6 separate regions of the Homo sapiens genome follow, and regions 1, 2, 3, 4 and 6 are each reported to be linked to region 5. Evidence: microRNA targets listed by miRTarBase, many of them from high-throughput screens and not tested one by one. Region 5 holds a microRNA gene; each other region holds the end of a gene's coding sequence.
Evidence for each region. Region 5 holds the annotated microRNA hsa-miR-655-5p (AGAGGUUAUCCGUGUUAUGUUC, at 934-955, shown strand). A microRNA usually pairs through its seed, bases 2 to 8, with sites in the 3' UTR of a target mRNA and lowers its output. Matches are read on the target gene's strand: a 7mer-m8 pairs with bases 2 to 8, a 7mer-A1 pairs with bases 2 to 7 and ends in A, and an 8mer does both.

Region 1 (3,000 bases), not on the chromosome of region 5:
TCACCCACAAAAACTGATTTCAAACCCTGCAGTTTGAAAGACAAATGCTACCCTGTCTTAGAGAATATGGGTACATAGCCAGTGACAGTACAATCTGACATCTTTTCCTCTAAGCCTAGTGCTTGGTATAGTGTTTATATAGCAGCTAACTGGTTTTTTTTTTTTTTTTTTTGCTTTGAGGTTGCTGAAAGGGGAGTCTGCTTTACTGTGGTTACGTTAGGACTTCTCGAAGTTCTGTTTCTTAGGCGGTCATATGCCCTACTTTTAGTAGCAACATGACTAAGGTCTCAAAATCAATGAATACTTTGCAGAGTTGGTGGCATTCATTAAGCATTTACTAAGAAGCACCTACGTGCCAGATTTGAGTTTGATTCTAGACATGTAGAATCTTTTGAGTGCCATCCAACCTCTTGAATACTTTGATGGCTATAAAACAACCCTCAAATGTTGAACCAAACTAGAAGTCTAGTTTCTGACTTCTACACATTGGTAATGTAACTCTGTGGCAACACTGAGCAAGTTTATTCCACATATAGTAAGACTCCCCTTCCCCTTCCCATTCCATGAGTCCTTAATCCCATTTGCTTTTTTTTTTTCTTGGAGACAAGGGTCACTCTGTCAACCAGGCTGGAATGCAGTGGTGCAGTCATGGCTACTGCAGCCTCAGCTTCCCAGGCTCAAGCAATCCCCTCCACCTGTCTCCAGAGTAGCTGGGATTACAGGCATGCACCACTACGCCCAACTAATTATTAAAATCTTTTGTAGGGAGGGGGGTCTCACTGTTACCCAGGCTGGTCTCAAACTCCTGGGCTCAGGTAATCCACATTGGCACCCTAAGTGCTGGGATTACAGGCATGAGCCACTGCACTCAGCCCCATTTGCTCTTCCAAAATTCTGGTTTCTCCAAGACAGGGTCTTGCTCTGTTGCCCAGGCTGGAGTGCAGTGGTGCAATCACGGCTCACTGCAACCTCCCTCTCCTAGGCTCAAACAATCCTCCCAACTCACCCTCCCAATTAGCTGGGACACAGATACATACCACCAGTCTGGCTTTTTATTTTTTTGTAGATCCGGTGTCTCACTATGTTGCCCAGGCTAGTCTCGAACTCCTGGACCTAAGTGATCCTCCCACCTCTGCCTCCCAAAGTGCTGAGGTTACAGGTGTGAGTCACCACACCCGGCCGAAGAGAACATTTTACTCATAGTAGAGGCTAAAGACTATGATAAAATAAGCATTTACAGAGAATGGAGACTCATCCTGTGAGGCCTTAATTTTTCTCTATGTTCAAGGCAGTTAATTGCTCAGAGTATGGGTTTGGAGGATCTGTACCACAAACTTAAAAGTACCAAGCTAACAAATCACTCATTTTGAAAGTCTACTACAAATTCATAGGCCATCTACCCAAATGGATTTTCTCCTATCAACTCTAGCTGCAGAGCAACATGGTGATTCAGAATAGGTGCCTGGATAGGAAGAGGCATACCGTGAATCTAAGGACTGTATTGAATAGTAAGGCTAACAAGAGTCAGGCATCTGCAGGTGCTGATGAACTAGAGACAGGAAGGGACCGAGTTAACATTTCAGGTGGCCAAGGCTCTCCTTGGAAGCTGTAAACCAAGACTGAAGGCTAATTTACTCTCTCTGTCCTGCAAATCTGCTTTGATATGGAGCAATACCCATGGATGCTTAAGTAGCTAGCTACTATATCGGCTTTTTTTTTTTTTGTCCCTCAATTAAATGCCTTAAGACCTGACATTCCAAGAGAAAACAAAAACCATACTTTGGTTTCTAAGGATGTATGACTGGGTCCCGGCCTTCAGAGGATGGCAGACAGATGGGAACACAAGTATAAGTAGACTAGAGTATCCCATAATTGTCAACTCTGGCAAGGTAAAGATGAAGCTGCTTATGTGGACAACTCGTGGGGTACCTAAGTAAATCTGGGAGCCAGGTACGTGCAAAGTGGTCAGTGGTAGAAGCCCTCATGAAGGCAGGAATGCTGCAAACCTCCACTTACTGCCTTCCAGGACCACTTAAGTCATAGTGGTAAGAGCTGCTAGAAGTAGTCGTTACCAACTTGATTACCAGCAATACACAATGATGTCAAGAAGACATTCCACATCCTTCTGTCATCACTAGCTCTCATTTCAACCACTAAAATAGGTAACAGCTATAGACAAAAAAAAAGGGAGACATGAAACATTCATGGCTGTTCAAGTTAGAAAACTATGGCAGCGGCTATATTAACAAAAATACAAACGTGTACACTAATTACAACATTTATCTACAGTCATTTTACCAGTTGTGCAGCCTAAACTGCCATTATCTTGTTTAGTCATTCCTAAGATGCGTTATTTCTGACATCGAAATATCCTGAAATTGGGAAACTATTGACCCAACCCCAACTGTGTTAGAACTGCATGAACACCTAAGATGAAGGACCAGCATCACAGCAGCACATCAGGCCAACAAAGGCAGAAGTCCAGCAGCAGGAGAGGGCAATCGCACGAGGACAGCATCGTGAGGTCAGCTCACCGACACTCTAGGTGTGCAGGCTTATCCTGATGACAAGAGCCATGGACCTCACCATGTGTCTGAAAACCGCAATGTTGCTACTTAAATGCTAAGCCTTTAATGGTGCATTAATAGATGGTTAAGTAGCATATTAGCAGCTTAAATCTACATAAGTCAGCTGTGTACTGACTGTACCTCACAGTAACAAATTCACCAAATCTGTATCTTTTCTTCTTTGTAACAATGTTAAATATTGGTATATCTCAGTTCTCAGGTGTGATTCCAGCAGCTATGGTGAGACCCATTGCTGCTCCTGAATCTCCACTTTCATTTGCCTTCACTGGTGTCACTGTCGCTGTCACTGCTGCTGTCAGTATCACTGTCACTGGTCAATGCAGTTAGATTACTTAGGGCTTCCCTGTTAAGAAAAGAAAATGGAGGATTACACTGCAATTCAACTGGGTGCTGGGGTTCTCGGTGTCTCTGA
Region 2 (5,064 bases), not on the chromosome of region 5:
CTGGCTTTTTTTTTTTTTTTTTTTTTTTTTGGAGACAGGGTTTCACTCTGTCACCCAGGCTGGAGTACAGTGGCACGATATCTACTCACTGCAACCTCCGCCTCCTGGGTTCAAGCAATCCTCATGCCTCAGCCTCCTGAGTAGCTGGGATTACAGGTGCGTACCACCACCCCTGGCTAATTTTTATATTTTTAGTGGAGACAGGTTTCGCCATGTTAGCCAGGCTGGTGTCGAACTCCTGGCCTCAAGCAATCCACCCACTTCGGCCTCCCAAAGGGCTGGGATTACAGGCATGAGCCACTGTGCCTGGCCACTTTTAAAATTTTTTGTAGAGATGGGGTCTCACTATTTTGCCCAGGCTGGTCTCAAACTCCTGGCCTCAAGCGATCCCCCTGCCTCAGCCTTTCAAAGTGTTGGGATGACAGGCGTAAGCCATGGCACCTGGCGAGGTTCTGCATCTCTAACAAGCTCCGGGCACTGCTGGTGCTGCCAGTTCCCAGACCATGCTTTGAGTAGCAAGGCCCTAAAGCTGCACTGTCCTATCTGGTCGCTGCTAGTCACCTGCAGCAATTTAACTTAGCAAGGAGAATGAAATAAAAGGAACAATTCAGTGCCTCAGTCGCATGGGCCACATTTCAAGTGATGAGCAGCCCATGTGGCCAGTGGCTGGTGTGTTGGACTGTGCAGGTGTACAGCACGTTCATCGCAGGAAGTTCTTGGAGGGTGGGCATGGTGCCTCACGCCTGTAATCCAAGTGCTTTGGGAGGCCGAGTCACGAGGATCTCCTGATCCCAGGAGTTTGAGACCAGCCTGGGCAGCATAGTGAGAGCCCCGTCTCTATACAAGAAAAGAAAGTTCTCGAGGATGGCGCTGCCCTGAGGTTTGGAGTAGGAGTTAACCAGACAGCTGGGGGAGGAGAGAATGGGCTTCTGCCTCAGGCTCAGCGCACACGAAGGCCACTGCAAGAGCTAGGAGGAGGACCATGGAATTTGAGTGCAAAGAGTAAGGAGGGAGTGAGACTGGAGACAGGGCCGGGGACTCCCTGGGCTGTGGCGGCCTTAGGGCCATGCAAGGGCCTCAGGCCAGGGGAGCCCCTGATGGGTCTGTGGCAGGCTGGGCTCCATCTGGGGAGATGGGAGTGTGGGGAATTCGGTAGTGCTTTTCTCTTCATGGCGTCACTTGCTTTTCCCTTTGCATCGGCCTGGGGCCCTGGGGCCTGATTTGCAGCATCAACAGCTTTTCCACTGCTGTGTGTCAGCCCAAGGGCCTTGTCACTGTGAGAGGGTAACGTGTGCCACGCCCTTCCTCCCCAGGGGCTCCATGTCCAGCCTGGAATCCTGCACCAGCGGCTTCTCCCAGCTCAGCGCCGCCACCTCGTCCTCCTCCTCCGGCCAGTCTCATAGCAGCTCCCTGGTCTCCAGATAGCCGGGCCCAGTGTTTCAGGGCCGCCCGCTCGCCTCCAGTGTCCAGAAATGTCCAGAATGAGAAGCCAGCTAACTGCAGGGCCTGGGACCATGTGGGCTGGAGCCCCAGGCCTAGATGCTGCCCAAGTTGGGGTGTCTGGAGCGGATGGCAAGGATCCAGAACTGGCCTGTGGGTGGTGTCAGGGCTCTTGAAATTGCAAGGACAGAACCATCTCCTTCCGGCTTCGTGTAAGGAAGACCAAGCCAAGGCCAAGGTGTCTACCATACCACACCTTTGGGACATCCGGGCTTAGCGACGTCAGCCAGGCCCATCTCCTCTCTGTCCACCTCTTGCTCTGCTTTCGCCATGCAGGGGACCATCACTATCAGGTGCCCTTCTCCTCCCTGCAGCTTGCCTGCATAAGAGAGCCTCTTCCTCCCAAAGGCTCCAGCCCACTTCCCAGAGCTGAGTCTTAGCCTGGAAGGGGGAGCGATTGCCAGGTCAATTCCTGAACCAATCACAGTTGCCAGGCACACTGGAGAATGCTGATTGGCCAGCAGGGTCATGCCCAATCTGGACCAATCACCGTGATCCAGGGTTGCAGTGAGGTGCAGTGATTGGCCAGCCTGGATCACATGCACATCTCTGGAACCAACCACCTGCTCTCAAAAGCACTAGTGGGTGCCTCGAGGAGTACTGGGGTCCCCCCTAAGAAGAAGGAGGAAGGATGCTGGGGAGGCAGAAATGAAGGGTGTTTACCTTGGCATCTGATTGCATAACGTTCTGTTATGCAGTATCAAGATGTGCTTGGTGAGCAGTTAAGTGAGTTACAGGCGCTGCTCTTTGTGGGGAACAGCACATCCTGAAGTGAAAATCCATGTTCCCTGCACTTGGCCAGCATGGCCTAAGCCTGACCATCCCTGATTGGAGAGGGTGGGAGAGCCCTGGGTTTCTGCTAAGTTCCAGGCAGTGATGGGGTGACTGAGGCTGTCTGTATACCCCACTGGAGATGCCTTTCTCTCCTAGGGAACTGTTTAATTATGACTGTTTTTGGTTGTAAGCCACAGAGACCCATGCCCAGGTGCTTCAACACAAAAGCATGATCATTCATGGGTGCATAGAACTGGCCAGTCCAGGAGGGCTTGCTTCAGGTAAGGCTAGATCCAGGGTCTCAACATGGAGTCTCGATTCCCCCCGCGAGTGGAGGCTGCTGTGTTTGCCCTGGGGCAGATATGACTCTGGAACTAGGTTCAATATTGACATGAGTTCCCCTAGTTACTACACAGGAGCGTCTTGGGTCTCCTTGGGGCCTGAGGACATTTCTCCTTTCCTTTCCTGGACTCCCCAAAAGGCAGCCAGTCAGGGGTCACCAACTTGAAGCCTGATCTGGCCTGCTTTTAGTGTTGCTTTTTTGCCTTTAGAATGGTTTAAAAATTGAGGCATTTCGCATCGAAATCAGGATTTCTGGCTTCCCTTAGGCATTTGGGAGCACCAGCAGAATGGGGTCACTATTGTTGCATGAAGACAACACCTCTGCACCCCTGGATGTGGCCACGCCAGTCCCTACCCCATTGACTTGCGCCCAGCCCACATTACACATCCTCATGACCTGCGTGGCAGGAGTCTCACTGACATGGCTCTGTCAGCAGTGGCTGGTACCCTTGTCTCCTGGCCTTGCTTAGAGTTGGGGCTCATCTCTGCTGCAGTAACTGAGCCAAGGGGTGGTTTTGTGGCCACAAGAATCATCTTTATGCAGGCTCAGCAATGCAGGGCCAGGAAACTTATATCTACGCCAGCCTCAACCCCAAACCCAAGGAAGAGAGAAAGTGTCATCTTTTCAGATACATCCTTCTTCCTGCTGGGAGAGAGCCTTGCCCACCTTCCTGTTGGCTCTCTGTCCGCTTCTCAGGTATCTGAACAAAATAGATTGCTTTGCACTCTGCGTCAAGGTGTGTGTGCACATGTGTGCATAAGAGACCGACTGATTGGAAGGAGACGTTCTCAAAACTAATTGCTCCCATATCACCAGGCATTTATTGCTGAGAGCAACTTGCAATATTTTCAACTATCTTTAAGTGAATTTCTAGCTTTTCTCTTAAAAACTAGGTGTTATCCTACAAGTATGCTGGGATAAGCTGCCCTGGCAGTCTTTATACATTTATTGTCTAGCCCCAGAGAAGGACACAGAAGCCTTTTACGGAAGGAAGCTGGAACTGCCTGTTCCAGAGGCGGGTGGGGGGAGGGGAGTCTGCTATCAGCTGTCCACCCTTAACAGTGGGGGTGAGGAACCTCAGGCCCTTTCAGTTCTGCTCTTGAGAGTGCTCTCTCCCTAGGGAAAACCAGCCCAAACTGGCTTAAGCAACAAAGCAAATTCCCTGGGTCCTGTACTAGGGATGGCTGAAGGTGGGTGCTGCTTCAGATATGGCTGGATCCAGGAGCTTAATGTCCTCAGGCCTCTCAACTGCACCCAGGCCTCTTGACTCTGCATCTCTTTGCATGCTGACCTCATTCTTTCTTCCACCTGGCGGGAAAGATGGCTGCCAGCAGCCCCAAGCCTATAATTTCAGGATTCACACTCTAAGAGATGCTTTTCCATCTCAAATCTCATGGAAGGCTCTGATTGGCCCAGCTCGAGTCACATGCTTATTCCTGTGGGCCACACTGGCAAGGAACTAGGGTCCCGTGATTGACATTCCCTGCAGAAGCCGCAGCAGGATTGGGGAGGGCCATTCCCCCAATGGACAAGAGAAGCTGGACCACAGAACCAGCAGGTATCCATGGTGGCATCTGCTACGGCCGGCTCTCCTCCCATGTGGAGGTCTCGGGGACCCACGTGGAAGCATTATCAAGGTCATTCTTCTTGCCTTCGGGAGGACTGGAATTAAAAATAATCCAAGGAAGGGATTGCCAAGCTTTTGGCTTTTGAATTTCCCCTGAGCCACAAAGGCTGGAAGTGCCTTGGCTTGGGCTTCTTGCATCATTAGTTCATTAATCCATTGTGACCAGGACAGAAGCAACCCACAAGCAGCATTACTGTTGGTGTTTGGGCACCTGGGCCTTGAATTTAGGCCAGGACTCAAACCCCAGCCTTCCTTTCACTAGCTGTGTAACCTTGACCAGGTGACTTAACCTCTCTGTGCCTCAGTTTCCTCATCTGTAAAGTGAGGATAGCAGTGCCTACCTCAATAGGTTGTAGTGGGACGAAATGAGGGAGTAGCTGTAAAGCTTTCAGCACAGCTCCCAGAACACAGAAAGCGCTCCATTAATGTCAGTGGTCATTCTGATTACTTAATGCTTCGCATCCAAAGACTCGTTTTCTTCCTGAGGTCGCCTATCCCTGTTTTTCGTTATTGCACCCAGAGAAAAGTAGGTGTCAAGAATTATTGCCCTCTGAGTTGGGTGTGCAGTCTTTCTCTTTTAGAAACTGCTTGTGTGGGCGGGGCGTGGTGGCTCATGCCTATAATCCCAACACTTTGGGAGGCTGAGGCCGGCTGATCGCTTGAGTGCAGGAGTTCAAGACCAGCCTGGGCAACATAGTGAGACCCTGTCTCTACAAAAAATTAAAAAATGAGCCAGGCGTGGTGGTGCGTGCCTATAGTCTCAGCTGCTCGGGAGGCTGAGGCAGAAGGATTGCTTGGAGGTCAAGGCTGGAGTGAGCCA
Region 3 (5,064 bases), not on the chromosome of region 5:
ATTAGACAGTGTAGGTAGACCTTAGAACAGTGAGTTTATGACCTTGAGCAATTCAAGTCTTCACTTATAGGTAGCATTAAAATTGGCTGCTCTGGATTACGTTCAAAGGATTTCCTCAGTCATTCTTAACTGGCTAATATCTCCCTACCAAAGAAACAGGTAAACATTTGTTAGGACATTTTTGGTTATTAAAATGATAAGAGTGTCCTCCTGGGATTTAGTGGGTAGAGATGAGAGATGCTAAATGGCCTGAAATGTGTGGGACAGTCTGCATAATAAGTTATTATTCAGCCCAAATGCCAGTAACAACCAATTTGACAAACTCAAGTAGGCCTTCAGGGTTCTCTAAATATTGTGGTTTAATTTGTGACATCACCTGCAGTCTCTGTCCTACCATAGTAAATTCTGTCTCATATGATCTGTGTCTTATTTTCTCTTGCCCTCAGGGACTTCACATTCTTATTATAATCATTTTGTTTGATGGCTTCAACCAGTCTCTCTCTATACTTGAACATATTCTAGCTTTTGTATCTCAAATAATATTCTTATTTAATTCTGTATCCTTCGTCTGTGACTGTCTCTTTCCCCTCATTCACAGCAGGCCATCCCTTGCCACTCTCAGAATAGCATATTTATTCATGTAGCTATTGGGGAAGGTATTTCTGTATTATAATGAAAAGAAAGCCAACACCATATATAGTTTCAAAGCACATCATTTTATTATAGACATGTCAGTAGAGTTATCATTTCCTGTTCCACTTCCAAACCATTGTGTGTGTGTATATACACATATGTGTATGTATATGCATATATATACACACATACACATATATGTTTAAAATTTCCAAAGCGAGCCCAATTTTATTCTTTTATGCTTATAATACTCTACCTATTTGATATGGTCCAAAGTATACCACCACTCCAGTTTCACATAGTTTTTCTAATTTAGTATCACCTTACTTTCTTCCAAGGGTAGGCTCATACTAAAACTATAAGGTAGTCACTTAAAACATTCCAGCATGTGGTTCAATGTATTGTCCAAATTAAAGTTTCAAGCACTTGAACAATGTCTTCCTAACATCCCCCACTTATCTAAAAAAGAATCGCCGCACATCCCAAGTAAATCATTCTAAACTCAATTCTGAAAATACTAGGTAGAAATAATCATATTTAAAAATATATCTATACTTGGTTAAACATACACTGTAAACTATTTGAATAATTGTGATGATGGCATCTCTTTTTAACTATACATCAAAGCAGTGATATGTCTCCTTTTGTCCTTTAATGTGTTATGTTATAGATCAGTTCAAAAGGCATTACAACATTTTTCTGATGTATTATAATTTTGTATTGAACAAGCATGTTTATAGAGAAATGCTACTGAAAATTAGAGTCAGTGTTTATTCTTTCAGTACAAAACTACATCCTTGCATGAATTCAGGAGGACCATACACACACAAATATCTTCATGATGTAATTTAGATTTTCATTGGCAAAGATCATGCCTGTTTGTGGCATTGAATGAATAGTTATGATGTTGATTCACTATATGAGGTTGCATTTATGGACAACTTCTGTAATCTACTAGGCAATGAAGTTATCCAAAGGAATTGGGAGACTTCAAAAAGTGCACCAAACAAGCAGAGTCCAGTTATTTCTGTTGAATAGATGACAGCCAGAATTTTAAGTGAGCTGATTTAAATAGGTTAAACGATGATCATGTTGCTATAAAAGACCTTCAAATTTTCATTAACTTGAATGATCATTACTGTGTTAGCACAATTAAAACTCATGTTTTGTTTATAAATTATATTCTCATACTGAACAGTAAATATTTTAATTTACCTATGGTTCAACAAGTAACTCATAAAAAATGACTTGAAAATTGATTAGATTTGAGGAAAAAGAAAAGTATACAATATAGTGAGAGTTATGTATTTAAAAATGATAGATTTCTTTGTCTGTTGCCAGAGGTTATATTCTGATAAATATATTCAGATATATGTTGTTTTTTCACTTATATGTGTTGTTCTTGTTTGCTATTTTAACATTCCATTATTAGAGGAAAGGATTGAATCTAGCTATACAAATGTTAGCCTATCTTTTCACTTTTTCCTCAAAGAATTCTTTCAGGATCTTTGGATATAGGCTTTCTTATATATGGACTGCCTATATTATTTCATGAGAATCGTAAAACAAAACACCTAAATTAGATTACAGCAAAGGTAATTATAACTTCATTGTTGGGGGGTTACATCATCTGCCCTTTTGTATCATTTAACTGGACTGCAAGGTGTTTGAAATATCAATATCATCAATAATTTTAAGTCATGATATCTTTATAAATACGGAAGTATGTCATTAAAGTCATGTTCGTTTATAAATTAATTTTAATTGCTATACATAAATACTATAATCATAGTGAAATAGTCAAATAAGTAGTCTATCTGTATACTACACTATTCAGATCACTCATCTTCATAAATATCACCCACAATGATATTTACACAAAACCTAATTAAAAGAAGAAAAATGGGCAATTTTAGTAGAAATTAAACATGTGATTTTGTGGGCATAGAAGGGCCTTGAGCAATTGCCTTCCCATTTCTATTGGAGTAGAATCTTAATAATACCCCCACAGCATCACAATTTCTTTTCTAATACCTATTTACATTCATGTATGCTATAATATATGCTGTATACATGTTCTATATTTACAGTATGTATACACACATTCACACACATACTTTATTCTTAGGCTCATTCATGAACATGCAGATCAATCTGCACAGTATGATCAAAACATGTTTATTTTCTTAAATGATATTCACATATAACTTTTCACTCTTTGTGCAAAAATGCAAAAATACCATATAGATTAGTATTCTCTCTCTCTAAAAAGTCTCTTTTTTATGCTTGAGGTTTTTTGTCATTTACAAATAAATTATGAAATATATTTCATTCACAAGTTGAAAATAATTACAATGTTTTTATAACAAGGCATTACTGAGGTTTTGAATTGTAGCATCCTTGAAGCCATCTGTCTTTCAGAACAAAGACGTCAATAAGTTATTTTTATTTCTTGATATTTGCACTTTTCAATTACTCATATGAAATATGTCATTACAAATATAATAATCATGCTAGTCAAATAGTGTTTGTATAGAATATGCATTTTATTTCTGTTTTATTATCTCTTTTTCCTGAAAAGTCTTCTTTAGAACAATCTGGAAAGCCTCTTGAAATTATTGTACTAGAATGTTTCTGGAAAGTTTTTTACCCCATAAAAAAGGGTGGAGAAACCAGTGAGGCAATATATTTTTTAGGAAGAATAATTTTAGTGGATGCTCAGGAGAGATAAATGCAAATGCAAAAACTGTTTTATTTTCTAGTCCTTTGGTGTCTCATTGCCTCATGAAAATCCTAAAAAGTGTTCAATTCTTTAAAACATTGATTACACTCTTCCATTAAATATCAGCTGTGGTCCTCCATTGCTCATGTTGTCTGTTATTTCCTGTTAGAAAAATGACATGATTAATTAAAATTCGCTTTTGGAGTAAGACATTGTTTTGGTTAATGAGTTTGCAAAACAGAAATTTCAATCCATTGAAAAACTTGCTAAGTTTTGGGGAAAGACAAGGATATTGCTGTTATATTTGAGGAAATAAAATTTCATGGCATCTTGGAGCACATGCAAATGCCAAAGTAAGAGTCAGTTAGACCAAAATATTCTCTCCACAACAACGGTCCATTCTCTCCCCACTTTCCTGAGTTTCCTCTTTCTTTCTTCAACTCAATTTTGGAAAGACCTCACCTAGAAAGAAGAAGATGGTTAAATGCGCAAGTTTTTCTAATGCATAGACTCTGCTGAGCATGTCAACAAAGTGCCAATGCATTCTAGAGGTGACCTTTATTCTACAGGAAAATGTGTGGCCTTTTTGCTAAGAACAGAAAAAGGCCTACGAGGGCATCATTGCTCATTTGTAACTATGGATCACTAAAAAATCATAGTGGGAAAGATTGTTTTTCATGACACTATCACTCTTCCAGTAAGAAGCAAAAACAGTGAAGTCTCTTAACATGTTTTTAATGGATCAATTACTAAAAAGTTAATAAGTAAAACTATATAGAAAAGCACTGAAAATATAGATGCAAAGGACAAACTAGCATTGAAAGTTTCATTTTCAATTATATGAAATACATTATGAAAAATTTTGATGCTTTTAATTCATATGTTTTGTTAAATATTAAACCCTTCCCAACACAATAAAAAGTGATAGGATATGAAGCCCATTCATATTTTAATGGTTAGAGCACCATAGTAAAATTATGTTGATAAAATTATCTAAAAATAAATTGGCAGCATCTTTCCATGCTTGAACAAGCCTATTTGCAACAGAGCAGAAAAAAAAAATTAGAAGTGGAAATTATTTTCTCAATTATTTTATTTCTATATCTATTTCTATCTAGCTCTGTTTGGAGAATCTGCTAGAGATGTACATGGTGAAAGTCTCCTAGAGAGGTATGTGATGAAAAATCTGAAAATATATTAGGGTTATGTGCTGGAGTTAAGTTTATAGCTCAGAAATCTGATTTGAGGCTTCATTGAGGAACTCACCATTGATGGCAAAATAGGTAGAATCACCCCCCACCCCCAATGATCTTCAACAAAATTTACTTTTCCTGTTTTACCTACTAGGAGAAAAATCAAATTTCTAATAAATTTACATAAACCCGTTAGGTGCCTTTTCTCCTTCTACAATGACTTTCCACTCAAAAACTGCTTAGAAATGATAAAAAGTGAATCTGTTATATTAACCTTTTATTGCAGAATTTAGTAAAACAATTTTTTAAAATGTTACAAAAAAAGAATTTTCTTAACTGAATTCACTCTACCATAAACACAGTAAAATCACTGATAGGAAAGAAGAGTGAAAATTCGTTTTAAAATGAGTGAGTCTCCAGTTTGCAAAAAAATTTGCAAATAGGCATGCTTAATTTAATAGGAAGATTGTGGTTTAAATTTGGGCTGGACCAATGTGACTATTTGCAAATGGGCTT
Region 4 (4,666 bases), not on the chromosome of region 5:
TCCAGATTAGAACTGGTCTTTTAAAAGTTTGGTTATCTTAGAGAAAGAGGTAAACTGCTGCCATAATTGTAAATAGAAGTGTTGTTTTTTCTCTCTAGGCATAAAACATGAATGTCAAGCAAATGGACCAGAAGATCTCAATCGGGCTTGTATTGCTGAAAAGTTAGGTGGATCCTTAATTGTAGCCTTTGAAGGATGCCCTGTGTAGATTATTCAGTGCCACAAATTGAAAGCTTCCATGTTTAATGTTATCCTCTTGCTATATAAATAAAGCAAATATATTTAGGCCAGGGTCTCACTGAGGGGGAGCTGTCTTGTCATCTTTTAGAGTAAACTATTCTATAAACATATGCAAACAGCCCTAAATAAATCTAAAGTCTAAAGTTTTATTGATGTGAAATTAAATTCTTATTGGCCAAATGCCTGTTTTGATGAGTTGATTTATAAAGATTTTTGTTAAGCTCAGGATTTTAAATTACACAGTTCACAAACAGTAAAGGCCATGTGAAGAGAATTATTACATCTTTATTAACCTCAGCATTTACTTTGTTTCTTTTGCTTAGGAAATTGCTCATAATCTGGTTATAATTTTGGTCCAAATTCTTTATTCTTCCTTGAGCTAAGCAGAATAATGGAATATAATATGTCTTCATAATATAACAACACTAATACACTAATAGTAAGATTAAGTTAGGCAGTCTTCTACCAAATGTGTAATGGAGATTGCCTCAAAATTGTGTCCACATAATCCACGCTCATCTTGCAAAGCGCTATTTCAGGCACATCATTGGAATACAGGAAGTAGCCCTGCACCTGCCAGTGAGCTCGCCATTCACTGATTGGAAGAGTGACCTGGCATCTTGGAAATCATTGTGTGTCTTCAGGAGAATGTGCAGTGTCTTGTAACAACTAATTATAATGCAAATTAGGGCTACATTGTAATCTGCTTTGTTAATGAAAATGATAAAACAGAATATTGACAAGCTAGGACACCTGTGGTATCTTTAATTGTATCTCCTTCAGAAGTTTGCTTCTTATGGTATAATAAAGTATGGAAGAATATTGAGTATATGTTTACTCTGGGCCTGGGAGAACTTAACTTTCTAGAGCAGTTTGTTGACTTGTGTGCAATGGGGAGAGGTACCATGATGACACTCACAGGGAGCCACTGTTCACTGACACTTGGAAGCGGTCATTGTTAATATCACGGGCGTAACACTTTGAACGATATAGAGATGCACAAACAGTTGAACTTAGAAGTAGCAGTATTGGCTTTATGTAATAAAGGAAGCATTTTTGACTTACCTCTCGTGTAATTTTCATGTGTGAATTGGGAATACAGGATTTTGCCTTCCATATGGGGTAAGGCATTGAGGTTTGGGTATTTCCAATAATTAAGAGTTAAGGTTGGCTGAGTGTGGTGGCTCACTCCTGTAATCCCAGCATTTTGGGAGGCCGAGGCAAGAGGATAGTTTGAGGCCAGGAGTTTGACAATCAGCGTGGGCAACATAGTGGGATCTCATCTACTAAAAATAAACAAAATTAGCCGGGTGTGGTGGTGCACGTCAGTAGTCCCAGCTACTTTGGATGCTGAGGTGGGAGGATCACTTGAGCCCAGGAGGTGAGCTGAGATCGTGCCACTGTACTCCAGCCTGGATGACAGAGCAAGACCTTGTCTCAAAAAAAAAAAAAAAAGTCACAACTCCCTCTGGTGAATAAGAAAGTTGGTGTAAAAGTTGGGAACGTTTTCAATGTTTATTACACTATAAGTGTAATAAATATTATACAAAATTATAAATTCACATTTAAAATTTAGAAAATAGAGAAAAGGGAAATTATACATTGTCCTACCACATGCCATCACATGGTTAGCATTTTGATACACAGCTGTGCATTATTACATGTCAAAGACTGCATATACTATGGTGGTCCCATACAATTATAATGTATTTTCTACTGTAATTAGATACACAAATACCATTGTGTTACAGTTGCCGACAGTATTCAGTATAGTAACGTGCTGTCCAGGTTTGTGGTCTAGGAGTAATAGGCTCTACCATACAGCCTAGGTGTGTAGTAGGCTATGCCACTAGGTTTAAGTGCAGTCTAGGGTGGGGAACATTTTAATGTTGATCCACATGCCAGGTGTTTGTGAGACAAGATTATGCTTTAATCAAAATATTTTGGAATTGTCTAGAAAATAGTGCTGGCTGCTTGTCATTCATCCTGAATTGCTTGTTTCTTTACTTTGTAGCAATGCTTTTAGTGTGGGTTTTGTTTTTTGAGACAGGGTCTCACTCTTTCCCCCAGGCTAGAGTGCAGTGGTGCAATCATAACTCACTGCATCCTTGAACTCTTGGGCTCCAGCAAGCCTCCTGCCTTGGCCTCCTAAAGTGCTGTGATTACAGGTGTGAGCCACTGTGTCCTGCTAGTGATTGTGATTAACAGGCCTCCAGGGAAGTGCCATAAGCCCAAGACTGCCGTACTCAAAAGTCAGCCATGTAGGTAAAGCAAGATATTTGGTCAAGGAGTTTTAGAAGGAGATTTTTCCTGTGGTGTTGGCTTAAGTGTGGCACTGTTGTGCGTGTGTGAGGTGTCTTCTGTGGGAAGGATTTCAAACAGTACAAAGGGATGTGATGTAAGCATCCAGAACTCACTCCAGAAATTGAATAAAATGCTAGTAGTTAGTCTCTAGGGGAACTTTTGAGAAAGTCTCAGTGGATTCCTGAGGCCCAAGAATTGTGCTAACAAGCACTCAAGGCGATTCTGGTACATAATTAGGGTTCAGACCTCAGCTGATTGGTCTACTGTTGGTCAGGAACAAAACTGCAAGTATACTCTGTTTCCAGAAAATACGTTTACCTCTTCACAAATGCTAACACACTGCAAAAATATGTTTGTGGAAAGCTGACTTAGTCTCATCTAGCGGTTACTCTCTTGCCCTGACAAAGCAGCAAATAAAGCCATTGCTAACAATTCAATCAGAGCTTGACTGTGAAGTTATCTCAGATAATATTACTCTGCAAAAACAGTGGACACAGTGACTTGGATAATAGGTTTGGTTTGGTGGTTTCCTTTCTGCAGAGTACCGGCTGCCGCAGGCACAGCAAGTGCAACTTGTTTCTTGACTATAATTGCCCTTCGGACCACCAGAGACTGAATATGCCCAACACGCATCACTTCTTCGTGATTTGGGGCATTTCTGAAATTGAGAACGGGCTCTAGACTGGGTTCCAGCTGGACTGCAGCTGGAAGGGACAGTAATGGCATTATGGCTGGTGAGGGGAGTATTCCAGGAGCCAGGGTTTCAGTGGAAGGCAGGCTTGAGTACCGTTTTGTTACTGAGGGCTCTCTGGGTTCTGCACAGTCCCAAAAGGGCACTGGGGAAGGGACTTATGGAGCCTCTGGCCAGTACCCTCAGTAACCAGCCCAGAGGTGAATTAACTTGCCTAAGGTTAATCGACTCACAAGTGGCAGAACTGGGACAAAAACTCAGATCTCTTGGTTTCTGTTCCTGAGCTATTTCCACCACCTCAGGAGAATTCACTTCATTCCTCTTATTATAATTGGATCATCTTTCCACATTTCTAACATCTGAAATTCAAAGGTTAGACCTTGTTCAGTGCTGGGGTGAGATTTGAAAGGGCCAAGAAGGAAAGCATTTCTTTTGCACTCTGAGCTCTCATCAGACCCAGCCCTGAAGGAAGTGTAGTGATGGCATCTGTGGAGGGCGTGGAGTGGCTTCTAGAACAAAACCTCGCTTTCCCCGCACCTGTCCCTCAGGCCTCGCTGGCTTCCTGCCTTCACTGCACCGCTTCCGTAGGTGTGGCCTGCAGGCGCAGCATCGTGGTGCCTGTGTGTTCCAGAATATCACATGGAGACACCTGAGGAAGCTGGTCAGGGCGCAGCTGTCTGTGAGGGGCTTCAGGTCTTGTTGTGCTGTCTATGGGCCATGTTAACCTGGAACTTCACATCTACTCTGTGGGCTCTGATCCATCTTCACCCAGCGGCCCAAACCCAGGGTCTGGCTTTGTGAAGCTGGGCCAGGGAGGAGCAGTGGTTCCTCTGTCGGGCAGCAGCTGGGTGAGTCCTGCCTCCACGGTGAACTTCATTCCAAGAACAGCACAAGCCAGTCCTCTGGTGCTGCCTGAGCTCGGCTACAGCTGCAGGACAGGGCTGCGAATGGCCAGGCCAGTGACCTGTGCCACGCTGGGGAATGCTGTGGGGCTGGGGGGGTGCTGCTAGCCCCTTCCGCAGGAAGTTTGCGAGGGCTGCGCCTCAGCTGGCTTCCCTGGAGCCTGACATGGAACCTGGCCTGGGACAGTTGAGGAGGCCCGGCCCACCTGAGGCAGGGCCCAGCCGGTGGCCTGGCAGACTCAGGCTCCCTCTGCCCACCTGGGAGGTACCACTGCCGGGCCTGAGGACTGCTCTGGCCCTGCTGGGGCAGGCGGGGACAACAGATGATGGGCCCTTAGAACGAGCTGCAGGAGAAAAGCTCCCAAGTGGCATTTTCCTGAACTCCCAGGCCAGCCGCACAGGAGTCCTACACCCTGTGCTACCTGCCTTCGGCTTCCTCCCTTCTGCATGCACAGACCTGGGGCTCCCAGCAGGTGGCCTGAAGGAGCAGGCTTTTAGCCAGAGTCCAGGAGGAGGCCACTGCCCCTCA
Region 5 (4,598 bases):
CTTTAAAAATGCTCCTAAGATTTTCATCACCTAGGGATCTTGTTAAAAAGCAGATTCTGATTCAGGGACCAAGATTCTGCATTTTTAGCAAGTTCTCAAGTGATGCTAATACCGCCGGTCTGTGGACAACACTCACAGTGGTTTGGGGCTGGAGACCAGGTGCTTTCCCTGTGATATGTGTCGCCTGTCTCCCCACATGCCATATACCGTCCATCGTGGGAGAACGGCCCAGAATCAACGTGCCATGTTTTGGTTTGTGAACAAGGGTTCACTTTCACATGCGTAAATAGCATGAGATTACTTTTCTTTAAAATCAAATCATGCCTCAAAGGGCTTCCCAGATACAAGACCTGCTTCAGGGAGGGGCCGCCGGTGTCAAGCTGCTGCAAGATTGTCGGGTGCAGGTCAACGGCACGCTTATTCATTATTGATGTGCTGGGCCCTGGAATTCTGTGACCCTCCGTTTCCAAGCAGTCATCGGGAGGAAATTCCAGGAACTGAGACCATCTCTGCGGTAGGGACCCTGTCTTCAGGGATCAGTGACACCCCATTTTATCGGAAACAGAATTCTTCATGATGGCTTTGCTTATCTCTGACATGCATTCTGCTGGTTCTCGTCATCAAATCCCGTCTTTCAGGAATCCGTGGAGGAAGCTTTCATATATTTTTAATGGAACCTGCCTTAGAAGTCTTTCTGAGCATGGTTCCAATGTCAGGGTTTTGACTTTGGTGCCAGGGCTGCCTGGGCCCTGAGACTGAGGTACGGGAATGGAAGGTCAATGCCAGTACGTGTGCTTTCTTTGCAGGATGTGAACACCTCCCTGCCCCAACCCTGGGATTCAGCTCATCCCAAGAAGAATCTTCTGGAAGCAAAGACAACGGTGGGGAAGAGGCCATGGTTTTCGTTTCAGAACTATGCAAGGATATTTGAGGAGAGGTTATCCGTGTTATGTTCGCTTCATTCATCATGAATAATACATGGTTAACCTCTTTTTGAATATCAGACTCTGCCTCGGAGGGCCGCCCCCACAGGAGACGTGAGAGTGTGTGCCTTGTGTGAGCTGAGAGCCCCTGCCCCGGCTCCGTGCTGCGTGAGGGAAGCTTCCTGGAAGTGAGGCTGGTGGAGGGAAGAGCCCTGGGTTGCTTTGCTGTGTTTGCTGTGAATGCGATGTGTTTTTGCGAGTTATGTGAGGTTCCCTCCTCTTTGAATGCCAACTTGTGCCTTCCCCCAGTGGCTGGGTCTGTGGCTTAGCCACAGGGCTAGGTCCCTTCCTGGACCCAGTGCTTTTCAGGGTGGGTCCCTGGGGGCAAGGACAAGGTTTACCACTCCACTGGGACACTTGAGGAGAGGTTAACTCCTCCATGCGGACTCCTTTGAGGACAGCCTGTTTTCCTCTCAGGGTGGCTCCCTGGATGAAGTCCAGCACCTCTGTGGGTGTGTGAAGGGCAGGCCGACTTGGGCTGTGTTCCCACTCCTCACCCAGGTCACTGGCCCAGTGCCACTTCCTCCTCAGGTCAGCTTCCCTCTGCCAGCCGACCTGGTGGGGTCTCCTGGTCCATTGCTTGGTGCTCATAGACACTGGCACGGTGCCAGGTTCCCTTCACTCCTTCCCGATGGAGACCATGCAGCTAATGAATCTTCGGCTCTGTGATGCTGCCTTGGAGGGCTTCCTGCACACAGCACCTGGTTTGAGAGGAGAACACGGACTCCAGCGTGTCCCCTGGTTATGGAGAAGGGAGGCTGTCCTTGATCCCCCGTTTGGTGGATGATATAGTTTGGCTGTGTCTCCACTCAAATCTCATTTTGAATTCCTTTGTGTTGTGGGAGGGTCCTGGTGGGAGGTAATTGAATCAGGGGAGTGGGTCTTTCCCTTGCTGTTCTTGTGATAGTGAATGGGTCTCATGAGAGCTGATGGTTTTATAAGGCAGAGTTTCCCTGCACAAGGTCTCTGTTTGCCTGCTGCCATCCACGTAAGACCTGACTTGCTTCTCCTTGCTTTCCACCATGACTGTGAGGCTTACCCAGCCACGTGGAACTGTAAGTCCAATTGAACCTCTTTCTTTTGCAAATTGCCCAGTCTTGGGTATGTCTTTATCAGCAGCCAGAAAATGGACTAACACAGTGGAGGGCAGTGGCACCAAGCCCCGCCCCCTTCAGGATGTGGTCCCTGTGTGGGGCAGCATCCTGGAGTGGCTGCAAAGCCCCACTGCTCTCTGCCTCCGTGGCTTTGTCCTATCTGAGGTGGCCAGTGCGCTGGGGTCCCTGTGTGGAGTCAGTTCTTTATGGGTGCCTGCAGGTGCCGGCTTCACAGTAAGAAAACTGTCAGCTTCGCCTGAGGTATGGGCACAGAGGTGACGCAGGGATATGAACTTTGTTGACGAATGTGTTCTCTGCACAGCTAACCCAGAGAATTCATTCCACCCTCAGGAGAAGCCCTAGAAGTGATACAGGCTCTGGCCGGGGGACCCGATGTGCTCGTGTCGCGGCGTGGGGCTTGGTGAGGAACCACCGGAGTGCTCTTGCATTTTTCATGACAAAGACCACACAGTTGGCCTCATTCCTGCACAGTGGGAGAATGTGTGGAGGTGTCCCGCCACCAGAGAGGAGGTCTATGTCAGCACCATCACCAGGTACCTGGGGGAGGGTCTGCTGACGATGCCCAATGTTCAATGGCCCAAGCAACCCGTCCTTGGGGGACTTCTGGGCAAGACCATTTCGGTGCTCAGCCCCACTCCGTGTCCCAGGCAGAGAGGGGGCTGAATTGATGATACCTATTAAATGGGTCATTAATTCTCATTATCCATGCAGCCTGCCCATGAGGGTCCCCCAGAAGGGAGGGCAACTCCGGGGAAAGGTTCTGGCCATCAGCACGAGGCCACGATCCAGGAGGTGCTGCAGAGCCAGAGGCCACAGGACAGATTATCAAGCCAGGTCACAGGCTTTCTCTGTCCTTGACCCTCAGCATCCAGGCTACCTACAAGAGGAGGCAGGGGGACTCCTCTGACACACCTGGGGAGGTCTCGTCAATGGCAGGTTCCCTCTACAATGCTTTCTCTGCTGCAAATGCAACTCAGCATCACCTCTTTCCTGGATATAATTCCAAGGAATTATTAAAGGAGGCATTGGTGTCAGCACCTCGTGAAATACTCGTAAGGATGACCCATGGCAGAGCCTGTGTCTTCATTGGAGTAAGACTCACATGCTGTGGCCTCCAGGCTCTGGAGGCCTCGGGGGCAGAGCAGGGTTGAGGCTGACCGTGGGGCCTCGCCTGGGTTTGTGGCTTATCATATTGGACCACTGTTTTTCAGGACAAACTCCCCGGAGATGTCCCCTGGCAGGACCCTGACCTGGAGGCAGGGTGCTGTCCATGATAGGGGAATGGATGGTTGATCAGAGAACGTACATTTTATAAATGGTGTATGTCAGTTGATCCACAGTCCCTACCTATCCAGTGACTTCTGGAGGCCACATCAGCTCAGAAGACAAGGTGGTGGTTTCCTAGGCCATGCTATTTTCTGGCACTTGAAAGGACCTTCTCCTTGCCGGGTTTGCTTTCTTTATGCCCAGTCTCATGAGGGAGTGCCTTTTTTGAGTATGGATCTTGCTGGGGAAGCTTTCTGGAAGGAGCTGTTGCCCTTCGTCCCTCTCCAGGGGCAAGAATGCATGGTTGGCTGGAAAGCAAGGGCTTGATTGACATTGTGCACCCCTCAACTCTCCTAACCCTCTGTCCCCAATTCATCCTCAGGCGGACTAGCTGGAAGGAAGGCAGACTCTGGTGAAGACGTGGGCCGTCACCGTCAGCCTTCGGTACTTGAAGAGTGGTTATCCCTGCTGTGTTCGCTTAATTTATGACGAATCATACAGGGACATCCAGTTTTTCAGTATCAAATACTGCTTTGGAAGGCTTCCCGGACAGCGTCCCGCCTTCAGGCAAGGGGTCTTGGCTTCACCTCCCACCCAAGGTATGTATGTGAACGGGCCATCGCAGTGCACTAGCTTCTTCATGTGCCACAGCCATGACCAGAATCGAATCTCTGAGGAAGATGGTTACTTCTAAGGCTGTGATTTTCTGGAAGGGGCTTTGGTGTCTGCACTACATTATTGGGGGAAGTTGACCAGTGAGAGGCCCATTCACACAAGACGTCTGTCACCTGCTCCAAGTGACCCTCACCCTTGGTAAGATGAATCTCTGGAGACATGCTGGCTCGGTAGTGTTACTGTCATCAGCCGGACTGACTGATAGGTAATTGGTCATCATTATTGCTTTTGTTCCAGGGCAGAATTTTTGAGTGCCAAATCTTGCCAGGGAAGGGTTTCTGGAAGCAGCACCGCCCTCTGGGGAGACTTGGCATCCACATCTGTTGGAGTTTGTGGAGAGTTAGTTGAGCAGTCTGAGCTTTGTTTCTGAGGCGTCTCCCTGAGCTCACTCTCCTGCCAGAGCTGTGTCCTGCCCATGGCCATAATGGCTATTGAGAGGGTTGGTGACTTTGGCCACCATGATTTTGTTTCGATAAAGTTCTCTCTTTTTAAAAAAATCAGATTCTTTTGTTTATAGCATAACTACATGGTTCATGAGTTGATCAAATAACAAGGAATG
Region 6 (5,064 bases), not on the chromosome of region 5:
TCATGGGAAAGTGGGAAAGGCTGTCCTAAACCTCACACCAAAACAAGAGGCAATAAGGGAAAATGGACCTCCAGGATGGAAAGGAGGCCATGAGCAGAGAGAGTAGGGAAGTGGCAGCCAGTGAGAAGACACATCTGGCGTCTGTAACAGACGGGGCAAGGGCCGGCCCTCTGCAGCACTCTGCTGGACTCTGGTGCAGTGCCCATCTGCATCATAGAGCAGCCAGTGTCCCTCAGAAGAGAGGCAAGAGCAACCCCTTGCCACAGCTGCCCAACTCTTAGCCCAGTGGTGCATCGTCAGAGGGACGGACTGGGTGAGGGCTATGCTGGTCCAGGGTGGCACTTAAAAGTAAGGGGATCGTGGTGGATACTGCTTTGAGAGTGACACATAGCACCCCGGTGAGGGTCCCGTGTCTGAGACAGGACGTGCCTGCCGGGAAGCTGGTTGTCTGCAACCTTGTGTGCACTCACCTGGAGGGGGGCGGGGTGGGGGTGGCAAACCACAAAATCCCTAGGAGAGGCAGCAGGCTGGGGAGGGCACCTGAAGTTGGTCTGGAAGTCAGTCAGTGCCTACAGGCACCAAATGGAAACGTGCTCATAAGATAGATGAGAAGCAAAACTGAGGGCCCTTTCTGGAGGTGGAAGACAGCCTGTGGCGGCAGTTCCAGATTGACACAAGAGACGGGCTCAGGCTGGGGCGGCACCATCAAGGCAGAGCACTTCTCACAGAATGTGGCAAGCTCAGGATTGATGACCTTTTCCAATGTTTGCCACGGGGAAGCCCAGAAAGGCTGTCTTTTGGTTGCAGCAGGCAGGTATGCATTGTGATTGATGGCTCAGGGCTGTTTTTATGTTTGCGTTACATATGGAATGGGGGCACCGGCGCTCTTGCCAGTGCTGAGAACCTCTCAGTGTCTTGATCAGGCCCTGGGAGGCAGGCATGCTCCCGACTCCCCCCGCGCATCCCAGGGAGGCAGAATCCACGGGAACTGGGCTCGTACCCAGGCACTGCAACCAGTCAGGGGATGAGGGGCAGGACAGAAGGGCTGTGCGTGAGTGCTTTCGGGAGGGCAGTGCCAGCAAATGGACAGGAGGGTTTTGACTTGGGCCAAGACAACGCCGTGGAGACACTTGGACGCTGATGGGCTTTTCTGTGACAGAGTTTGCTCAGGAGATGGGCAGAAAGCCTCTGGGGCGCTCCCTGAGTTAGGACTCAGCTGCGGCCTCACGGTGTCAAGTGCCTCAGCGATGGTGGACAAGCGCACGTAAAGGGAAACTTGGTAGCGTGCAGGGAAGTAGGGAGGTGCATGCTAATTCGGGACCACAGGCTAGGAGGATGCCTTTGTGCTCAAAGAGACTGAGCAATGAGGTGTCACTAAAGACAGCATTGGCGAAGCAGGCTCCACTGGGAAAAGTGCATGCGGAGCTGTCTGCAGGGAAATCCCCTTTGAAATCAGATTGCCCAGCCAAACTGCGGCTGGCTTGGGAGAAAGGGTGGTCCTTCTGACAGCTCTTAGGAACCCTTAGGAACCGGGACAGGGCTCCCAGAGCCAGCCAAGGAAGCCCCAGCAGTGTGAGCCTTGACAGGGGATGTGGTGTCACAACAACTGCAAGTCACTTGTTGGCCATCCCAGGCACCAGGGCCTGGGAAGAGGTCTGGTCCCCATTCCAGGTGGGAGGGTTTCCCAGAGTTGGTCAGGGGACCCGGCAGGCACTCAGGCCGTCTGGCCAGCATGGACTGTGGGGCAGATGGTACAAGCAGGAAAGTTGTAACCCACCTGGAAGGCAAGCTGCGGGGGGAAGGGAGAATAAGACAAGAAAAGAAAGCTTTGTTCTGTGTGGAACAGAACAAGCAGAATGCCCAGCACCACAGAGATCGCAGCTGCCCAGGACACAGTGACCCACAGCAGCAGCCCTGGGAGACCGAGAGGGCACCGGGCACGGCAGCAGCCTTGCCCAAGGGGAAGCAGATGTGTTTACTGGGTTTGCCATGGCTTTAGGGAAGGGGACCACTTCTTGACACATCACAAACATGCAGGGAACCTGGCTTTGCTGATTCAGGGGCTAAACCTGCTGGGCGGGATCTGGTAATGTTGGAGGTGGGGGCGGGGCAGAACGAGCTGCCCTGACCCATGGAGTGCTTCTGCGCCCACGGGCTCTTCCTTTCCTGGCAAGGTGCAGGCACCTCAGATGGAGAGTGTGGAGGTGTCTCCGGATGGATGGAGTGGCCACGGTCGTGCCAAGTGCCCTCAGCATCTGCCCTATCACCCCCGCAGGTAGTTGATGGAGGGCTCCACTGTCCCCTTCCTGGGTCCCACCACAGGTAGTGGGGATATGGAAGAAAGGAGGTTGCTCCAAAGGGAGCAGCGGCCAACCCTCTCACTCTGCCAGGAAGTAGCGCTGGGGATCCCAAGGAAGAGAGAAGGAGGGCTGGAAGCAGATTTCCCCCTGGCTTCGCAGGAGGGATAGAACTACACAGGGTAGGTGCTGGGCAAGCGGCAACCTTTATCGCCATCATTGTGCAATAAATGCGCCCCGATGCGTGGTAGAGCGCCCCCACCCGTTCCACCCCGGTCCCCATCCCCACGTCGGGATGCGCCGACAATCGAAAAGGCCAGGGTTACTGACCTTTCTCTCCAGGCTGGCAGTCAAGGAAAAGACATTAAGAAGGGATTTCTCTGTGCCGGGGCACGGTGCTGCCTGCTCCACGGGTGTTGTCTCTTTCAGTCCTCTCAACATTCCATCCTAATTCCACGAACTCCCCCGCTGTGCCCCTCCCCTTCCCCCACCCCCGCCTCCAGCCCCTTCTTGAAGTTTATTCTGAGCACTGCAGCCCCTCTCTATCCCTGCCTCCTGTGAGCACCGATAAGCCTGCATTTGTCACGGAGCAGACGTTCCAGTCAGCTGGCGTTTACCGTGCTTTTTTTTTTGTCCTTCTCTCCGTGCAGACTGTAAACTCAAGGACAAGGACCATGACTCTTTTCTGCCAATCAAAGCACACAACTTTATTGATGATACACACAGATGCGGACTTGGGTGGAAGAGGTTAAGTCGGTACAATAGACAGAAGAGCAGTGCACTTTTTTGATGAATAGGTTCACTATCCATCAGGCGCGTGTAGAAGAAAGAGCAAACGAAAAATAATTCAACCTAAGCTGCAACAAATGCATTTTCAGCTCAAGCCGCGATATGCCTCTGGTCTCTGCAAAGCGGTCCCGCTTGGACAGGGAGACCACCACAGGCAACAATAGCACTCGTGATGCTGTAATTTGATGTTCTTTGTCCACAGCAGGCAGCTGAAGTGATCCCCTCACCACATGAAGGAGGCTGCAAGGGAGGAATTTACAATGCCAACATTGCCTGCAGACTGCACAACCAAGAAGTTACTCAAAGCTCTGTGGGAGCCCCTGCCTGGCCAATAAGAGTGTGGTCCTGGATTGAGCCCTGGAACTTTCACCCAATGAGGTGGTGATTGGCTAAGGCTGGATCTTCAGTAGCACCCTCTGCAGATTCTTTGACATCTGCAAACCAAGCGCGTTGTGGGTGGATTCCGTCCCATTGTGTTCGAGAGGGCCGTTTATGGGGCAGGGGTTTCCAGGAGAATCTCTCTGTTTCCATTTCTGATAAAGAGGGACATGAATGAGAAGAGCATCTGGGCACCGACTAACTCCCCCGCCAAGACTGGCTTTTCAGACAAACCCATCAGCGGTTTCAAAACCTGAACCTTAGCACATCCACTTCCCTCTGATATCAAAGGAAACTTCAAGTCTGAAGCGGACTTGGCAAGCATGTTATTAATAACTGTCATGCTTATTAACAAATTTAATCCGGCCTGCTGCAGAAATGAGTTGCAGCAACGTGACACAGTCTCCCGACACACTTCATTGATGTACATCTTAATCTGGCCCTGACTTTCAATACTCGCATTTAAGTTATCCGGGGCACACAAAGCCTCTCTAACAGTGGGGTCTGGAGTGGGGCTCGTGTTTCTAGCCATTGAGAGGCTGGCCAAATGGCTATTGATATCCTGGCTAAATGGAAAGCCCGCATCCTTGGGCTCGGCAAACAACAGTTTTCCCTGAATGAAAAGACACTTGGAGAGGTCCAGAACACAACTGCCATTTTTACAATTTTGAGCACTCCAAGTATTTTTATGTTCATAGGGGAATGGCCGCTGTTTTATTGGGTGTGCTCGGTTGGCCTTGCCTCCCCCTGAGGGCCTGTCCTCAGTGCCACCTGGGGCCCCAGGTTCAGTCCAATCCCCATCCTCAGTCCAGGGCCGAGCCATAGTTTCAAAATCAAACCAAATATCAGGCTCCTCCTCATCCAGCTCCTGGTCATCGTCCCACTCCTCTTCCCCCTCCTCCTCCAGCTTCTCACTGTCATCTCTTCCTATGGTCAGTTTGTAAACGCAGTAGCAGGCACCAGCCCCAATCATCAGTCCTGCCGCCATCCAACCCACTTCCCGAGCCCGGCCCATGCTCAAGTCTGTGCCAGCCTTGGGGCAGGACAGGAGAGGGCCTTGCTCCACCTGATTGAAGAGGTCTCTCAGGTCCAGGGTGAGTAAGGATGGAGGGTAGCAGTCTTCAGCTTCTTCCAGGCTCTTGTAGCTCTCTTGTGATGAATCTGTGGGTGAAACAGAGTATTAGGGCTCGGGACTATGTTTGGCTTTGTGCCTCACAGACAGGGTGGATTTCGAGTTGGTGATAAAGGCAGATTAACAGGATACAATTTCTTTGTTCTTTTCTTTTCTGTCTTCCTCTATCGACCTCAGGAGCCCCCATTTCTCTTCCTGGGTCCACAGGGAAGGGCAGGAGATGGGTCTCTGCTATGATAGCTAGGAGGGTGACAGTGTGAGTACCTCTCAGGTAGTCTCCTACACCAGACCTCCACCCCCAAAGATTAAGGGCAGTTTCTCTCATTAACCTCTACCAAAGTCAGATAAATTCCTTCGTTTTCCCTTGTCTTCTGTTGTCAGTGGTCCCTCCACGGTGATAGAGGATAGAGTCTGGCAGAAGGACAAATGCAAAGACAGGTAGGCGGCAATGGAGAAATGAAAGTGTAG

Region 1: the mRNA of PTCD3 is a reported target of hsa-miR-655-5p. Seed matches in the 3' UTR shown: 8mer at 1,149-1,156 and 7mer-A1 at 177-183.
Region 2: the mRNA of SEC14L5 is a reported target of hsa-miR-655-5p. Seed matches in the 3' UTR shown: 7mer-A1 at 3,691-3,697 and 7mer-m8 at 4,531-4,537.
Region 3: miRTarBase lists TMEM196 as a target of hsa-miR-655-5p. Seed matches in the 3' UTR shown: 7mer-A1 at 3,011-3,017, 7mer-A1 at 2,921-2,927, 7mer-m8 at 1,974-1,980 and 7mer-A1 at 1,554-1,560.
Region 4: miRTarBase lists DSTN as a target of hsa-miR-655-5p. Seed matches in the 3' UTR shown: 8mer at 530-537.
Region 6: the mRNA of ARMCX6 is a reported target of hsa-miR-655-5p. Seed matches in the 3' UTR shown: 7mer-m8 at 3,042-3,048.

Annotation. Positions count from the first base shown.
Region 1 is chr2:86,137,400-86,140,399 of GRCh38, reverse strand. It overlaps PTCD3 (pentatricopeptide repeat domain 3), which reads right to left. Exons shown (of 24, transcript NM_017952.6): 24 at 1-2,931. The coding sequence ends at 2,841. Among named protein-coding and RNA genes, the nearest start is that of SNORD94, 3.0 kb to the right of the region's middle.
Region 2 is chr16:5,013,546-5,018,609 of GRCh38, forward strand. It overlaps SEC14L5 (SEC14 like lipid binding 5), which reads left to right. Exons shown (of 16, transcript NM_014692.2): 16 at 1,314-5,064. The coding sequence ends at 1,425. Among named protein-coding and RNA genes, the nearest start is that of NAGPA-AS1, 18 kb to the right of the region's middle.
Region 3 is chr7:19,718,618-19,723,681 of GRCh38, forward strand. It overlaps TMEM196 (transmembrane protein 196), which reads right to left. Exons shown (of 5, transcript NM_001363562.2): 5 at 698-3,517. The coding sequence ends at 3,511. LOC107986774 (a long non-coding RNA gene) reads left to right here and starts at 3,401. Exons shown (of 5, transcript XR_001745112.2): 1 at 3,401-4,525.
Region 4 is chr20:17,606,939-17,611,604 of GRCh38, forward strand. It overlaps DSTN (destrin, actin depolymerizing factor), which reads left to right. Exons shown (of 4, transcript NM_006870.4): 4 at 99-2,981. The coding sequence ends at 208. Among named protein-coding and RNA genes, the nearest start is that of DSTN, 39 kb to the left of the region's middle.
Region 5 is chr14:101,048,639-101,053,236 of GRCh38, forward strand. MIR655 (microRNA 655) reads left to right here and starts at 912; the gene lies at 912-1,008. It overlaps MIR381HG (MIR381 host gene), which reads left to right. Exons shown (of 3, transcript NR_104192.1): 2 at 2,429-2,631; 3 at 2,964-3,157. MIR544A (microRNA 544a) reads left to right here and starts at 20; the gene lies at 20-110. It overlaps MIR487A (microRNA 487a), which reads left to right and starts at 3,808; the gene lies at 3,808-3,887.
Region 6 is chrX:101,612,142-101,617,205 of GRCh38, forward strand. It overlaps ARMCX6 (armadillo repeat containing X-linked 6), which reads right to left. Exons shown (of 3, transcript NM_019007.4): 3 at 2,984-4,625. The coding sequence starts at 4,479. The coding sequence ends at 3,577. Among named protein-coding and RNA genes, the nearest start is that of ARMCX6, 3.3 kb to the right of the region's middle. RefSeq lists an enhancer at 1,468-2,030.